Linked DNA regions of Homo sapiens: region 2 is linked to region 1. Evidence: fine-mapped expression QTL. Tissue or cell type: whole blood. Region 1 holds a variant in brackets; the other region holds the start of a gene. All regions are shown on one strand. Distances are from middle to middle.

What was found. PIP is the estimated chance that this variant, and not a neighbour inherited with it, causes the effect.
Region 2: RAB34 starts here. The variant in region 1 is fine-mapped to the expression of RAB34 in whole blood (INTERVAL, PIP above 0.99).

Annotation. Positions count from the first base shown.
Region 1 is chr17:28,848,798-28,856,896 of GRCh38, forward strand. It overlaps ERAL1 (Era like 12S mitochondrial rRNA chaperone 1), which reads left to right and starts at 6,219. Exons shown (of 10, transcript NM_005702.4): 1 at 6,219-6,520; 2 at 7,467-7,594; 3 at 7,708-7,785. The coding sequence starts at 6,238. It also overlaps a transcript of FAM222B not described here. RefSeq lists a silencer at 14-63 and enhancers at 5,372-5,877, 5,831-5,880, 5,878-6,384, 6,181-6,530, 6,385-6,890. The variant C/T (reference allele first, on the strand shown) is at 3,070.
Region 2 is chr17:28,713,084-28,721,182 of GRCh38, forward strand. RAB34 (RAB34, member RAS oncogene family) reads right to left here and starts at 4,785. Exons shown (of 10, transcript NM_031934.6): 1 at 4,130-4,785; 2 at 3,820-3,911; 3 at 2,910-2,975; 4 at 2,717-2,818; 5 at 2,558-2,622; 6 at 2,373-2,424; 7 at 2,112-2,193; 8 at 1,949-2,039; 9 at 1,710-1,817; 10 at 1,201-1,627. The coding sequence starts at 4,183. The coding sequence ends at 1,560. RPL23A (ribosomal protein L23a) reads left to right here and starts at 6,902. Exons shown (of 5, transcript NM_000984.6): 1 at 6,902-6,947; 2 at 7,624-7,807. The coding sequence starts at 6,923. It overlaps SNORD42B (small nucleolar RNA, C/D box 42B), which reads left to right and starts at 7,467; the gene lies at 7,467-7,533. RefSeq lists a silencer at 4,618-4,877 and enhancers at 5,558-6,158, 6,159-6,760, 6,417-6,466, 6,897-7,116, 7,457-7,616.

The sequences.
Region 1 (8,099 bases):
AGACCCGCAGTGGTTCAAATATAGGAATATATGTTGTTGTCATATAGTCTCCAGCAGGGGGCGCCACCTTCCCCTCTCCCCTGGGAGCCAAGAGTCTAGACTGGGCCACCAGCCCATACCCCTAGTCCTGGCAGCACTGATTCCCCACCAGAACTGAGCTCATGTTAAGTGGGGGATGACCCGGCCGGGCGCGGTGGCTTACGCCTATAATCCCAGCACTTTGGGAGGCCGAGGCGGGAGGATCACGAGGTTAGGAGATCGAGACCATCCTGGCTAACATGGTGAAATCTCGTCTCCACTAAAAATACAAAAAATTAGCCGGGCGTGGTGGCGGGCACCTGTAGTCCCAGCTACTGGGGAGGCTGAGGCAGGAGAATGGCGAGAACCCGGGAAGCGGAGCTTGCAGTGAGCCGAGATTGCGCCACTGCACTCCAGCCTGGGAGACAGCGAGACTCCGTCTCAAAAAAAAAAAAAAAAAGTGGGGGATGACCCAAGAAAGCACTGTAATTGACACTTAGCGATTTTCTACTCTTCGGACCCGGGGCCATGGAGCCTTGAGTAGAGTTGTTTTTTTTAAATCAGCATATCAACTTATTTTCTCTTCTACCCCAATTCCTTCCCTGCTATTCTCTACACTCCAGGAACTCACCAGCAGGGAGCAGGCCGCAGCTAATTTTGGTACCACTTAAGGGTTGCCCATTCTGGCCCCCCTTCTACTCTCTCACCCTCAAATCTTTGTATCTGGAGTGTTTTCTTCCAAGAAGCTGCAACACCCAAGGTTGGTAACTCTCATAACCAACCCACACAAGCGCCCACCTCCTCTTTAGGAAGTGGCCAAATTTGGCATTTTTTTCATTACAGCCTGCCATTCCTAGATGTTTTCTACATTAAAGAAGAAGAAAAAAAATCACTGTTTTCTCCTTAACTTCAAGCTACCACTCTCTCCTCTTTCCCTATAAGGGAAGAGAAAACAAAAAGTTGAAATGTAAAAATTCCCCTCCTCACCAGGCGCAGTGGCTCACGCCTGTAATCCCAGCACTTTGGGAGGCCGAGGAGGGCGGATCACCTGAGATTGGGAGTTCGAGACCAGCCTGACCAACATGGAGAAACCCCGTCTCTACTAAAAATACAAAAAATTAGCCAGGCGTGGTGGCGCATGCCTGTAATCCCAACTACTCAGGAGGCTAAGGCAGGAGAATCACTTAGAACCCAGGAGGCAGAGGTTGCAGTGAGCCGAGGTCATGCCATTGCACTCCAACCTGGCCAACAAGAGTGAAACTCTGTCTCAAAAAAAAATTCCCCCTCCTCCCATTATTTAAGCTATTGTCCTATTGTCATCACTCTCTTCTCTGCCCCATAAAGCTGTGAAGCCCTTTGCCTCACTCTTGATAGCATGAGGGGCCAGCGGGCAGGGATTGCGATTTGAATTTCTGAACTGTTTTTCCTTCCACTCTGGGTACTTGCTCAGGCATTGGAGTCTCCTCACCCTTGGCCATATGAGTTTCTTTTTTTTTTTCTTTTTAAGACAGAGTCTTGCTCTGTCGCCCGGGCTGGAGTGCAGTGGTGCGATCTCGGCTCACTGCAAGCCCCGCTTCCTGGGTTCACGCCATTCTCCTGCCTCAGCCTCCCAAGTAGCTGGGACTACAAGTGCCTGACACCACGCCCGGCTTTTTTGTATTTTTAGTAGAGACAGAGTTTCACCGTGTTAGCCAGGATGGTCTCGATCTCCTGACCTTGTGATCCGCCCACCTCGGCCTCCCGAAGTGCTGGGATTAGAGGCTTGAGCCACCGCGCCCGGCCGGCCACATGAGTTTCTTTAGAATCCTTTGGTCAACTGGGACCTTGATTTTGAAACAGTTTAGTCTCGGGTATTTTTGTTCTGTTTGTTCTGTTTGTAGGTTCTGTCTGTTTGCCTATTTTCTTCTGTCTGTCGGTTTTTGTTGTTTTCATCATTGTGGTTCTAGAAACTTCTCGTGTGCAGTGTCTGACCAATTTTGAACAGGTTCTTTCTATAAAAATCAAAAATTGTAAAAAAATGTTCCGCCAGGCATGGCAGCTCACACCTGTAATCCCAACGCTTTGGGAGGCCAAGGTGGGCAAATCACAAGGTTAGGAGTTTGAGACAAGCCTGGCCAATATGGTGAAACCCCGTCTGTACTAAAACTACAAAAATTAGCCGGGCTTGGTGGGGTGCGCCTGTAATCCCACCTACTCAGGAGGCTGAGGCAGAAGAATTGCTTGAACCCAGGAGGTGGAGGTTGCAGTGAGCTGAGATCGCACCGCTGCACTCCAGCCTGGGCGACAGAGGGAGACTCCATCTCAAAACAAAACAAAACAAAACAAAAAAATGTTCCAAGGCTAGGGGCAGTAACTCACACCTGTAATCTCAGCACTTTGGGAGGTCAAAGCAGATGGCTTACTTGAGCCCAGGAGTTCAAGACCAGCCTGGGCCAAGCCAGGCATGGTGGCTCACACCTGTAAGCCCAGCACTTTGGGAGGCCGAGGTGGGTGGATCACCTGAGGTCAGGAGTTCGAGACCAGCCTGGCCAACATGGTGAAACCCCATCTCTACTAAAAATACAAAAAATTAGCCGGGCGTGGTGGCAGAAGACTGTAACCCCACCTACTTGGGAGCCTGAGGCAGGAAAATAGCTTGAACCCGGGAGGCAGAGGTTGCAGTGAGCCAAGATCATGCCATTGCACTCCAGCCTGGGAGTCTCAAACGAACAAACAAACAAACAAAAGACCAACCTGGGCAACATGGTGACAGCCTGTCTCTATAAAAAATACAGAAATTAGGCTAGGTGCAGTGACTCATCCCTGTAATCCCAGCACTTTGGGACGCCAAGGCGGGCAGATCACCGGGTCAGGAGTTTGAGACCAGCCTAGCCAACATGGCGAAACCCTGTCTCTACTAAAAATACAAAAATTAGCCAGTGTGGTGGCGGGCACCTGTAATCCCAGCTACTCGGGAGGCTGAGCCAGGAGAATCACTTGAACCAGGGAGGTGGAGGTTGCAGTGAGCTGAGATCGCACCACTGCACTCCAGCCTGGGCAATGAGAAAGACT[C/T]CATCTCAAAAAAAAAAAAAAAACCAAAAACAGAAATTAGCTGGGCGTGGTCAGGCACATCTGTAGTCCCAGCTACCTGGGAGGCTAAAATGGGGGAATCACCTGAGCCCAGGAGGTGGAGGTTGCAGTGCGCCAAAATTAAACCACTACACTCCAGCTCAGACAACAGAGTGAGACTGTGGCTCAAAAAAATTTTTTTTTAATTAAAAAAAGCAACGTGGCCTGGCGCGGTGGCTCACGCCTGCAATCCTAGCACTTTGGGAGGCCAAGGCGGGTGGATCACGAGGTCAGGAGATCGAGACCATCCAGGCTAACACAGTAAAACACCGTCTCTACTAAAAATACAAAAAATTAGCCGGGCATGGTGGTGGGCGCCTGCAGTCTCAGCTACTCGGGAGGCTGAGGCAGGAGAATGGCCTGAACCCGGGAGGCAGAGCCAAGATCGTGCCACTGCACTCCAGCCTGGGCGACAGAGCGAGACTCTGTCTCCAAAAAAAAATGTTCAGGCCAGGTACAGTGACTCACGCCTGTTATCTCAGCACTTTGGGAGATGGAGTAGGCAGAGTTCAAGACCAACCTGGAATACATGGTGAAACCCCATCTGTACAAAAAAATTACCAAAAAATTAGCCGGATGTGGTGGCCCGCATCTGTAGTCCCAGCTACTTGGGAGGCTGAAGAGGGAGGATTGCTTGGGTCTGGGAGGTGGAGGTTGCAGTGAGATTCAACCATTGCACTCCAGCCTAGGGGAGCCAGACTCCATCTCAGTAAGAATAAAATTTTCCTCTTAAAAAAGAAAAGAAAATCCTCTGTTAACCCCACAGCCCTCTCCTGCTCAATACTGGTCCTCAATATCCAAGGGTTCAGCATCCAGGAATTCAACCAACTGAAGAAAAAAATATCTGGGGAAAGGCCAAGCATGGTGTCTCATGCCTGTAAACTCGCACTTGGGGAGGCCAAGGCAGAGGATCACTTGAGGCAAGGAGTTCGTAACCAGCCTGGGCAACATAGTGAGACTCTGTCTCTGCAAAAGATTTAAAAATTAGCACTGGGCGAGGTGGCTGACGCCTGTAATCCCAGCGCATTGGGAGGTTGAGGTGGGCGGATCACCTGAGGTCGGGAGTTCAAGACCAGCCTGACCAACATGGAGAAACCCCGTCTCTACTGAAAATACAAAATTAGCCGGGCATGGTGGTGTATGCCTGTGATCCCAGCTACTCGGGAGGCTGAGGCAGGAAAATCACTTCAACCCGGGAAGTAGAGGTTGCAGTGAGCCAAGATTGCACCATTGCACTGAAGCCTGGGCAACAAGAGTGAAACTCTGTCTCAAAAAAAAAAAAAAAAAAGAATTACTAGGCATGGCAGCGGCAGGTCTGTAGTCACAGCTACTAGCAGGGCTGAGGTGGGAGGAACGCTTGAGACTGGGAGGTCGAGGCTGTAGTGAGCCATGATTGCACCACTGCACTCCAGTCTGGGTGAGAGAGCAAGACCCTGTCTCAAAAAAATAAAAATAAAAGAAAGAATGGGAGAAGAGAAATTGAGGATAGCCAGAATATACAGTGGTGTCTTCCCAGGGAATTTAGATACCATAATTTCCACCCTCCCATCCTATGGATACCAAAATCTGCTGATTCTCTTGTAGTAAGAGATGACTTTAAGTCATCTTAAAGTCTCTAGATTACTTATAATATCTAATACAATGTAAGTGCTATATAAATAGTTGTTATACTGTATTGTGTTGTATTTTTGTTGCTATTGTTATTTTAGAGATGGGGTCCCTGAAATCCCGTGATAGAGATTTCTGTCTGTTTTGTTCACTGATGTATTCCCAGCACAGGACAGAGCTTGCTAGTGGATGCTTTATACATCTTCCTCCATAGTCAGGCATGTTAGCATGTGCCTGTAGTCCTAGCTACTCAAGAGGGCTGAAACTGGAAGATCGCTTGAACCCAAGAGTTTCAGGCTCCAGTGAGCTATGATCATGCCACTGCACTCCAGCCTGGGTGACAGAATGAGCACTGACTCTAAGAACCTTCCTTCCTCAACACCCCCTCTACCAAAGTTTATCTCTGTTTCTTTTTTTTTTTTTTTTTTTTGAGATGGAGTCTCGCTCTATCGCCCAGGCTGGAGTGCAGTGGTGCAATCTCAGCTCACTGCAAGCTCCGCCTCCCAGGTTCACGCCATTCTCCTGCCTCAGCCTCCTGAGTAGCTGGGACTACAGGCGCCCGCCACCACGCCCGGCTAATTTTTTGTATTTTTAGTAGAGACCGGGTTTCACCGTATTAGCCAGGATGGTCTCGATCTCCTGACCTCGTGATCCGCCCGCCTCGGCCTCCCAAAGTGCTGGGATTACAGGCGTGAGCCACCGCGCCCAGCTCTCTGTTTCAAGTGTTTGATTTAGAGGCTACAAAGGATGAAGAGGGCTCAAGGCCTCAAACAGAGCAAGGTAAATGAGTTTCTCCGGCTGCTAGAGCGGTCTAGGAGACCTTAGGTGGCTAAGCCACTTCTTCCTCCTTTGCAAACCCTCTGGTTGTTCTCCATAAAGGAATGACCTCAGATAGTAGACAGTAGCCAAGGCTTACAGGAGGGAAATCCAGACCTGCTCTTCATCCCAAACACCGACCCAAGGACCACTCCTTCCAGGAACCTAGCCTAAAGCAAAGGTGCAGACAGCCCGGGGCCACCGCTGACCTCTAGGGCAAGCCAAATTAAGGCTGGGAGAGGATCCTGCAGGCCAAAGGATGGAAAGGACTAGGAACAAACAACAACAAAACCCTTACGGGGACAGGCGGAACAGTGCCCCCTCCCACTCCCACAACCATTCCTCCCTCGATGGGAGGACGATTTCTGCTATTTGGCCTCATGGGAAATGTAGTCTTTTAGGAGACATGGCCAGAAGGGCCGTTTACAAAACTTTGGCAGAAGAAAAAAATACGTTGTGTATGGGAGTCCAAAACTACCGTCATGCTTGCACAGACTCTAAATACACATTTTCCCCTTTCCTTAGCCTCCACCAGTCTCCAGAGCAATTCCTCCTCCCGCCCACATCCCATGTGTCTCGGCTTTCAATTTGGGCAGACCTACCTCTCTCCTACTCGCTGGTTCGTCAGCCGCTCTGTTCAATCGTAGGAGCGCTCCTGGTCGGTTCCCGCAGTGCCTTGCGGCTGTAATGGCTGCCCCCAGCTGGCGCGGGGCTAGGCTTGTTCAATCGGTGTTAAGAGTCTGGCAGGTGGGCCCTCATGTCGCGAGGGAGCGGGTGATCCCTTTTTCCTCACTCTTAGGCTTCCAACGGAGGTGCGTGTCCTGCGTCGCGGGGTCCGCTTTCTCTGGTCCCCGCTTGGCCTCGGCTTCTCGCAGTAATGGCCAGGGCTCTGCCCTGGACCACTTCCTCGGATTCTCTCAGCCCGACAGTTCGGTGACTCCTTGCGTCCCCGCGGTGTCCATGAACAGAGGTAAAGCGCCCTGATAGGTTTGCTCGGAACTGTCATGTTTTTAGTATTGAAAGGTTTCTGGGGATACTGTCTTTGATTCTATTTTATAGAAAACAATTTTGAGGCCCTGACAGGGAGGAGCAGTGAAAAATCTCTCAGGAGAGAAATAACAGTTTGAGTGGGAGAAGGAAACGATCTGGTCACAACCAGAGACGCTCACTAAAGAGCATGAGATTGAAGGGCCACAAAGTGGAACTATGGCTCTGCACCCCGACATGGGAAGCAAATTTGATCCAGTAAATGCATGTTGGGCCTCATCTTCTTGTTAAGACACAGTTACACCTGGAAAACAGCACACTTTATTCTTCAAACAGTGTCCGGTATTGGAGACTGGACACAAACTGGTCATTGCAAAATGGTGTCATAAGAAGATAATATAAAAAGACTGGGCCCTCTCCCTTCTTGACCCTTAGCCCTTCCTCCCGTCCCTCCTTCAGGAAAAAAAAAAAAAAAGACTGGGAAAGCTTGCAGGGCCTTCATAGCACCCTTAGTAGGGTGAGAGAATGAGAGCTGAGGAAATATCTGGCTTTGTGTAATCCAGCTTGCTTTCATGTACATTCACTTCTCAGGCACAGCTATACATTATAATTACATGCAGTAATTATTAAGTGCCAGGTATTGTGCTGAGTTGTTTTACACAATTGCTAGTCATCAAAAAAATTATAAGCTGGTAAGTAGGTACTGTTAATATCAACTCACTTTTACATATGAGAAAACTAAAGGGCTCAGGGAGTTACTTTATAAATTAATGTAAATTAAGGGCCAAAGTCTCAAAGTCAGCTCTAGGTGACTTCAACCTGGTGCACTAATTTTGTACCCCTGCTCCCTTTGTGGGTGGGCAGGAACAAGCACTTGACAGGAAATCCAGATTCCACTGTGTCTCATGCTTCTTCCCACTTGCACATAGATGAGCAGGATGTCCTCTTGGTCCATCACCCTGATATGCCTGAGAATTCCCGGGTCCTACGAGTGGTCCTCCTGGGAGCCCCGAATGCAGGGAAGTCAACACTCTCCAACCAGCTACTGGGCCGAAAGGTATGCTACACCCTTGACCATCCTACCCTTTACATCTTTTACTTCTTGCCATGCCTTCAAGGATGGTCTTGGAGGGATCTGGGACCTCACTGAGACTCCTTTGTTCCTGGCAGGTGTTCCCTGTTTCCAGGAAGGTGCATACTACTCGCTGCCAAGCTCTGGGGGTCATCACAGAGAAGGAGACCCAGGTGGTGGGTACCTACAAAGGGAGTCCTTGAAACAGGACAGAGGGTGAAGCTAAGAGGGTCTCCCTTACCATCAGCCTTGAAGAAAATGATGGTCACATTCATTTATGTGAGGAAAGGGGGTTTCTTTTCTTTTTCTTTTTTTTTTTTTTTGAGATGGAGTCTCACTCTGTCTCCCAGGCTGGAGTGCAGTGACGCGATCTTGGCTCACTGCAAGCTCCACCTCCCAGGTTGACGCCATTCTCCTGCCTCAGCCTCCTGAGTAGCTGGGACTACAGGCGCCTGCCACCACACCCAGCTAATTTTTTGTATTTTTAGTA
Region 2 (8,099 bases), 140 kb before region 1:
TCTAGGAACTGCGAGGGAGGGGAAGCCAGGAGAAGGGAAGTGTGCAGAAAAACCAACCATCCTGGTGAGAATGGAACCAGGAATGGAACAGACAGAGCACTTGGCAACTGGGAGCCAGAATCTGCCTTCTAACTTGGACACCCCCTTAGCCTCCCAGGATGACACGAGGCCATAAGTCCTCCTTTGTTGACCCAGATGTCTGAGGTGCTTCCAGCTACTCTGGAACTCTGGGTTAGATGTCAACAGGGAGCCAGGGTCTTGGTCACCTTTCTTTCTTATAAAAGTTAATGGCATAAACAACCAAAAAAACAAACAAAAAAAAAAAAGAAAGAAAAGTTAATGGTTATAACTCCTGAGTTCAAGCAATTCTCCTGCCTCATCCTCCCAAGTAGCTGGAGTTACAGGCATGCACCACCACGCCCGGCTAATTTTTGTATTTTATTTTATTTATTTTTTTTTATGAGACAGAGTCTCGCTCTGTCACCCAGGCTGGAGTGCAGTGGTGCCATCTCGGCTCACTGCAAGCTCCGCCTGCCAGGTTCAGGCCATTCTCCTGCCTCAGCCTCCCAAGTAGCTGGGACTACAGGCACCAGCCACCACGCCTGGCTAATTTTTTGCATTTTTAGTTTCACCATGTTAGCCAGGATGGTCTCTATCTCCTGACCTCGTGATCCGCCCGCCTCAGCCTCCCAAAGTGCTGGGATTACAGGCATGAGCCACCGCGCCCGGCCTAATTTTTGGATTTTAATGGTGACGCGGGTTTCACCATGTTGGCCAGGCTGGTCTCGAACTCCTGAATCCAAGTGATCTGCCTGCCTTGGCCTCCCAAAGTGCTGAGATTACAGGCACGAGCCACCGCACCCTGCCTGGAAAAGTACTTCTTAAAGGGAAGGCAAGAAAAGGGTGAAAAAAAGAAAAAGATTCTCCAGTGGTGAAAATTTGGGTATAAGCACCAAGTAGGAGGACACGTGTGGGGAAAGGATCAGGGGAAAGGGCTCTCAAAGCCAGCCATTCAGACTTCACCCAGTGAGGGCCCAGTGCAGCCCCCAAACTGATGTTTCAGCTCCCAGCCTACCTGAACCTGCCCAGGGGCCAGGGATGGCCAGCACAGCATCCCCAGGGGACTCTAGTGCCAAAATGGCCACACAGTCATGCCCATTCCACATCCATCATCCCCAACAAAGAACTCCAGCCCCAAAGTGCTCGTAACAAAGAAATTTTAATGCATAAGGCACAGTGAGAGGCTGGAATCATTAAGCATCCTCAAACACAAAGGGCCCAGCAGGCTGAGCAAAAGAACAGAGACACTCTCCCTCACTACCACTGGGCGCCCTGGACAGTCCCCTGAGGAGTAGGGGGCATCCAGTCTTTGGCACGGTGCCTGGGGGCAGGAAGTGACTAGCATGATCCCAGCTACCCCTCTGTGGGAATACTGCCACCAAGAGGCAGCTCTTTGGTCTGGATAAAGTCAGTGCAAATGTCCAGGGGTCAAGCTCTGGAGGAATGAGGGTGGCACAGTGCCCTAGGGCTGGGCAGTCTCTGAACAGTCTCCTCAGCCCTCATGGGCAACATGTGGGCTTCTTCTTGCTGGCAGTTAGGTAGAGGTTGCTGTCATCACTGTTGATGCCTAAAGAAGGGTGGAAAATATGTGAAGCAGGGATTGGAGGCTCACTGTGCCCTCTGCCACCCTCAACCAGGCAAGCACTCACGGACAACATCCCCAATGCGTCGAGCCCCCGATTTCTCCAGCTCAGCCAGCACATTGGCCTCAAAGGTCAGTGCTGCCACACGGAAGAAGAATTCTCGGACATTCTCACCTGACACAGAGAGCAGATAGGTGCTCAGGGGCAGTGCTGGGTCTGGGGACACAGGGCACAGCTGGAGGTGTAGCAGTGAGAGGAGAGCCAGGCAAGAGTGTCACAGCAGAGCCCTAAAGCCTCCAACTCACCAGTGAGAGATGAGACTGCCCAGTACTCAGCCTTCATCTCCTGGGCCACCTGGAGGGCGTCTTTCTCCATCAGCGCATACTGAGCAGGGGTCTGAGGGAAGGCCAGAGTCAGAGGGGGGCATTCCCTCACCAAGCTGGGAAGTCCCCCCACTGGCACACTCACACTCAGATCCTTCTTGGAACCTACAAGGAAGAGAAGCACACTGGAAGGGTCATTCTCCTTCAGGGCATCGGCCAGCCACTGCCTGCCATGGGAGGTGGAAAGTAAGGGATGAGTGAGTCTGCAGGGCCCCTCCCACTGACATTCATAGGCCCAATTACCCCCTCTCTGGTCCTACATGCATTCTTCTTCTTCCTGACCACCCCTCTGTTCTGAACCCTCTCTTCCCGGAGCCTCCCATTATATTGCAGGATGCTCACTTACTTGGTATGTTCCAGAGATGCCACATCATTCAGGTTGAAGACAATGATGATGGCTGGAAGAGTGGCAGAAACAGCCCCAGGTTGACAGGGAAGACACTACTGCTCATTTCCCCAATCCTTCCAGCTCCATATGAGAAGCCATGTGCACTCTGAGACCCACCTACCCCACTTCACCCAGCCCCTTACCTTGAGCTCCTCTATAGTAGGTTGATGCAATGCATTTGAACCTCTCCTGCCCAGCGGTATCCCAACTGGAAGGAAGGAAGAGTGAAGCACAGGTATGTATCTTGGGGGGTGTGGGTGCTGGGGAGAAGGGATAGCTGGAAGGGGTGTGGAAGCACTCACAGCTGCAAACTGAAGGGAATGCCCAGCACCTCAAATCGTTCCATCTCGAAGTCCACTCCAATGGTGGCCTTGTAATTCTTATCAAAGGTGTCTTTGCAGAACCTGAGAGGGTACCAGATGCTGTGATCTGGAGCCAGCCCACCTGGCTAGGCTTGGCCCCACCCTGCCCAGCTCAGCTCCAGCACCCCCTTACCTATTAATGAGGCAAGTCTTCCCCACCGACAGGTCCCCCACCACAATGACCTTGGAGATCTTAAATCTGCTGGACACAAGAGTGGGCAAGGGGAGTGGGCACGAGCTCTTTCACCCTAGGGAGTTCCAATGCTCCCGACTAGGTCCAGAAAGGTAGCTGCACCCAGGCTGAGGGTATTATAGACACCAGGCATCCCAGGCAGCTGCGTGGACAGGTGTGCTGGGGAGGAGGAGTGTTTTGTGCTCCAGAAGCAGAGAGACATGAATTTGAATCCCAGCTCTCACACTGATTAGCTGTGTGACTTTGGACACGTTATTTAGCCTCTCTAAGCCTCAGTTTAAACATTTAAGTAAAGTTAGTATATATTTTACTGGGTCGTTGTGAAGGTTAAAATGAGATAAATGTCCTATATTCTAAGACACCCTCCCCCCCGCATTTTAATGTCTGAAATCAGGATATATCTTAAGTGATGGACTTTTCCATTCAATAAAGATGATAGTACCCAACACTGCCTGGCACACAGCAAATGCTTAATTAATGGTGCCAACTGTTATCAGTATTACCTTTAAAACCCACAATAAGACTCATCCCTGTAAGCACAGCCAGACCCCTGCCCTGGGGCTCCATGGATGCTATGTGGGGATCTGAGCAGGTGACCACCTTCCCATTTCAGACACCTTAGTCTCTACTCAGAAATCCAGCTGCCACCCTTCTACCCAACCCCATCTCATAGAACTCACAACAACCTTGTTGGGAGAAAAGGAGGGGATACAGGGGCTTAAAGAGGGGGAAATAACCATATAGCTGGTAGGGGCTGAAATGAAGCCCCAAGGGGGTGGTTGTTTACCCTCGCTATGACTACAGAGTTTCCTGGGACCTCCTCTCTTTGTTGTGGGTGTCCCTAACTCACCCCACGGTGCCTGTCCGGTGCTCCTGGCAGGCGCAGGTGACGCGGGGGTGGAAGTCTTTGTGCCCGTGCAAAGCGGCCTCCTTCCTCAGGCACTTAGTGGGAAGGATGGAAGAGAATGGAGCTTCCTACTCCTGGCCCTTGTCCCGCAGCCAAGCGGCCCGGGTAGGGGTGGAGTGCAGGGACCACCCAGAAGCACCAGGCCTAGCTGGGTGGCAGGGCTGGGCCCAGTCCTCTAACTGGTCTGGTGCCGCCTCCTCCTCGCCCACACCCCGGGCTGTAGACTGAAGCCCGACGTGGCCCCGGCGCCTACCTGGGGCAGCTCCGCCAGGACGCGATCCCTCCGCACGGGTGCCAGAATGTTCATCCTGCCTGCGGCCTTGCAGGGCGCCCTGAGAAGGCGCCGAGGCCGGATCCGCGTCAGCGACCCGGGCGCGTGGAGACCCGACGATCACCCGCGGCCGGGGTGTCCCGACTACAACTCGGGGCCACGGGGACCCTACGGGAGTCCGCGGTCTCGGAGACGCTACGACCACCGCGGGCCACGGAGATGAAACAATCACCCGGGGCCGCGGCGAGCCCAAAATCACCCGGGCCCTGGGCGTCCCGAAGATGACTCTGGGGCGAGGAGACTCTTCGGCCGCCAATTGGGGGCGGGGAGTCCCGTCTGGTGGGGGCCGGGCCCGCGCAGACCCTACGATTACGCGGGGCCGGATAGTTCCTACGATTACGCGGGGCCGGATGGTTCCTACAATAACCCGGGGCCGCGGAGACCCGACGTCATCTCGGGGCTGAGGCTGCCCTACCATTACAGAGCGGCCCGGGGGCGCGGAGCGGCCCCGCCACACGGGGTCAGTGTGGGCAGGGGCGGCGCTGCCAAGGCCCGCAGGCCGCTGGAGGAGGGGGCGAGGGGCCCAGTCCGGCTACAGGGCCTCGAGTCCCACTCCGCTCGGGCTCCGCCAACGCTGTAACACGATCCCCGGAAATTCCTGGAGAAGGGCCGCCCCCCGCCCCTCTCCTGGCGGCTCCAGGCCTCGCTGCCCGCCCTCGCCACCCCCTCCTCTCCACCCTTCTGCGTTGCCCCGCTCAGGCTCCCTCTTTTGACGCTTCACCGGGCACCAGGACCGCCCCGACCCAGGCTGGAGCCTATCCAGATAGGGACTCCCCAGGCTGCTCTCCCCTGCACCTCTATACCCGGCTGCGCCTTCATGGGGACCCTTACCCAGCCGAATTGGTGATGGGGAATCGGAGACTGCTGCGCAGCATCTGGCGATGCCAGGAACCAGCAGGGAGGGGAAAGGGGGAGAGAAGGGGCCCAAGGAGAGGCGGCGCTTCCCTCCTCAACTCCAGGCCTGGGAGGTGACTCATAGAGTCTGCCCCCTCTCGCCCTTCTGCCCTGGGAGGTCGGGGGTGAGGATGGTGGAGGGGAAGCGTGCGAAGGGGGTGCCAGGGTTAGAATGAGGTGCCCACCGAGGAGAGAGACGTCTGAAGTCTGGCGTCTTTTCCTTCAAGGCTGCTGTGTAGATTGTGAGGTGGGAGGGCTGAAGATCAAGTTCCCTCGAGGGAGGTTAAAGAAGGGCTAAGTGGACCCGGAAACTCTGCTCTTCGGGGTGGTCTCCGCTCTGGGAGGCGGGGACTCCCCTCTGGTATGGGTGTTCATTGTTCTGGCCCCATTGGAATCTATCCCCCAGGGACAACTCCTTTGTGCAAAGTCCTGCAGGATAGAAGAGGGGGCAGTGCACAATCAATTTCACCGTCAAAGGGGACATGTCTGGTTTTATGAAGGGAGAGGGAAGAAGAAAGGATCAAGTGGGGATGGGTTAGGCACACACCTTAGGAGAAGCGAACCTGAGTGTTAAGAAACCTTTCTCTGTGTCTGGAGCTGAATTTGAGGATGTAAAGATGACCAGGACACGGAAGGGAAGACTAGTTTAGGGCAGGGGATTGTGAGTGAAGTTACTAACCGGAAAAACTAGCGAATCTTGGAGAAATGTGTGGAATTTTCATAGAACTTCAAATGCATTATCAGGAAACGCAGTAAAACTTGACAGTATCAGTGTCGCAGGTAAAGAGGGGCAGGTGTGGCCGCCTTGTACTTCCTCTGACACTTCCCCCTCGTGACTCGATTATTTATTTATTTATTTATTTATTTATTTTGAGACAGGGTCTCACTCTGCCACCCAGGCTGGAATGGCTCATTGCAGCCTCGACCTCCAGGGCTGAAGCGATCCTCCCACCTCAGCCTCCCAAGGAACTGGGACTACAGGCACGCACCACCACGCCCGGCTAATTTTTGTATTCTTTTGTAGAGACAGGGTTTCGCCGTGTTGCCCAGGGTGGTCTCGAACTCCTGGGCTCGAAGCAATTCGTCCACCTCGGCCTCACAAAGTGCTGGGATTACAGGCGTGAGTCACCGCGCCCGGCCCTGACTTGATTTTTTTCTGCCACCAAATCACTGTGTTATTGATAAACCACATTCCTCTCTGGACCTCAGTTCGACCGAGCAAATCCTGCTCCAGCACTCTAGAACTTAGCTGTATCTAACTCCCGAGTCAATCCAAATGTGTTCTTTCCTCTTGGCAGCGTTCCTGCCTCCTGGCATGGCAATCCTCTTCCCTGAGACTGGCAGTTGCTCAAGATAGGAAGCTCCCGGGACCAGACCCGAGCGCCAGCCGGCTACGCCGTCCGCTGGCCTGAGCAAATAAACGCGTGTCTTCAAAAAACTACAATCCCCATGGTGGCACGCGCCTGTAGTCCCAGCTACTCTGGTGGCTGAGGCAGGAGAATGGCGTAAACCCGGGAGGCGGAGCTTACAGTGAGCCGAGATCGCGCCACTGCACTCCAGCCTGGGCGACAGAGCGCTCAAAAAAAAAACAAAAAACAAAAAACAAAAAACTACAACCCCCATGAAGCTTTAGTGCCTTTGAGGGGAGGAGTGGCGCATGTTTGTTCACGCACGAAAAAGAAATTAAACCTAACTACCGTTCCCAGAGGGCGCCGCTCTGCAAATTACCCAATCAGCTCTAAGTACAAAGCATCGCGAGTCTTTAGTGCTCTTTGGCGCTATAAGCCCGTGGGAACGAGCATTGGAGACCCTTTTCACAAGATGGCGCCGAAAGCGAAGAAGGAAGGTGTGTGTTGGTGATGGGGCCGCAGCTGGTTTACCGGGGATTGCCGCGCCGCAGAGCGAACGAATTGGGAACACGGCTGCTGGGCTAAGCCCTGAGGGCTCTGCTCCGGGGCTGCTCCCTGCGTTTCGGACACGCTGCAGTATACGTGGGCCGCGTGGGCCCAGCCTCGTGGGCTGAGTTCCGGTAGAGGGAGTTGGGGGGGGGCAACGCGGCAGGCATCATCCGCCAGGGAGGGCCAGACATTCGGTTCTGGGAAGCTACATGCATCCACTGGTTGGAGCTCCATGTCCCCGGGCCTGTAAGGAATTAGTGCCCTCAGCTTTAACCATTTTCCTTCTGGTTCATGTTCAACCGGGCTACATTACCCGCCCCTCTCTCCGCAGCGTGGTTTTGCGATGGGGTATGTGTAAAATTCGTAGGACATTTTCTGGAAAGTATCAAGCGTTCATTCAGTGCTACTTTGTTTCATAGTCGTATCCCTGGAGTTACTTAGAGTTGGTCGCTTTCGCCTCTGGTATCGTGCATATGATGGAAAAGTTTTAATCTCCTGACACTTGTGATGTCTTCAAAGGAACCACTGATGCACCTGTGGCCAGGGTGGCCCACTGCAGTTCTTGGGGCCGGAAGTGACCGATTTCTAAATCCCGCACCCACGTTTTCTTTCCTTTTCTCCCAGCTCCTGCCCCTCCTAAAGCTGAAGCCAAAGCGAAGGCTTTAAAGGCCAAGAAGGCAGTGTTGAAAGGTGTCCACAGCCACAAAAAGAAGAAGATCCGCACGTCACCCACCTTCCGGCGGCCGAAGACACTGCGACTCCGGAGACAGCCCAAATATCCTCGGAAGAGCGCTCCCAGGAGAAACAAGTCAGTACTGCCCCCTGTACCCATGAAAAGATTTGGGTATTCTCCATTGGTAATTTGGAAATTCACTCACTCTGCGTGATGGTTTCTCAAACGCAAATTGTGTCCAGTGTGCTTCTCTAATTGGAAGTATGAGGAGATTGTTTCTGCTGCATTTACAAAACTGGCAGGATCAGCCCAGAGGCCGGGCGCGGTGGCTCACGTCTGTAATCCCAGCACTTTGGGAGGCCGAGGGGGGGCGGATCACTTGAGGTCAGGGGTTCGAGACCAGCCTGAGTGACATGGAGAAACCCCG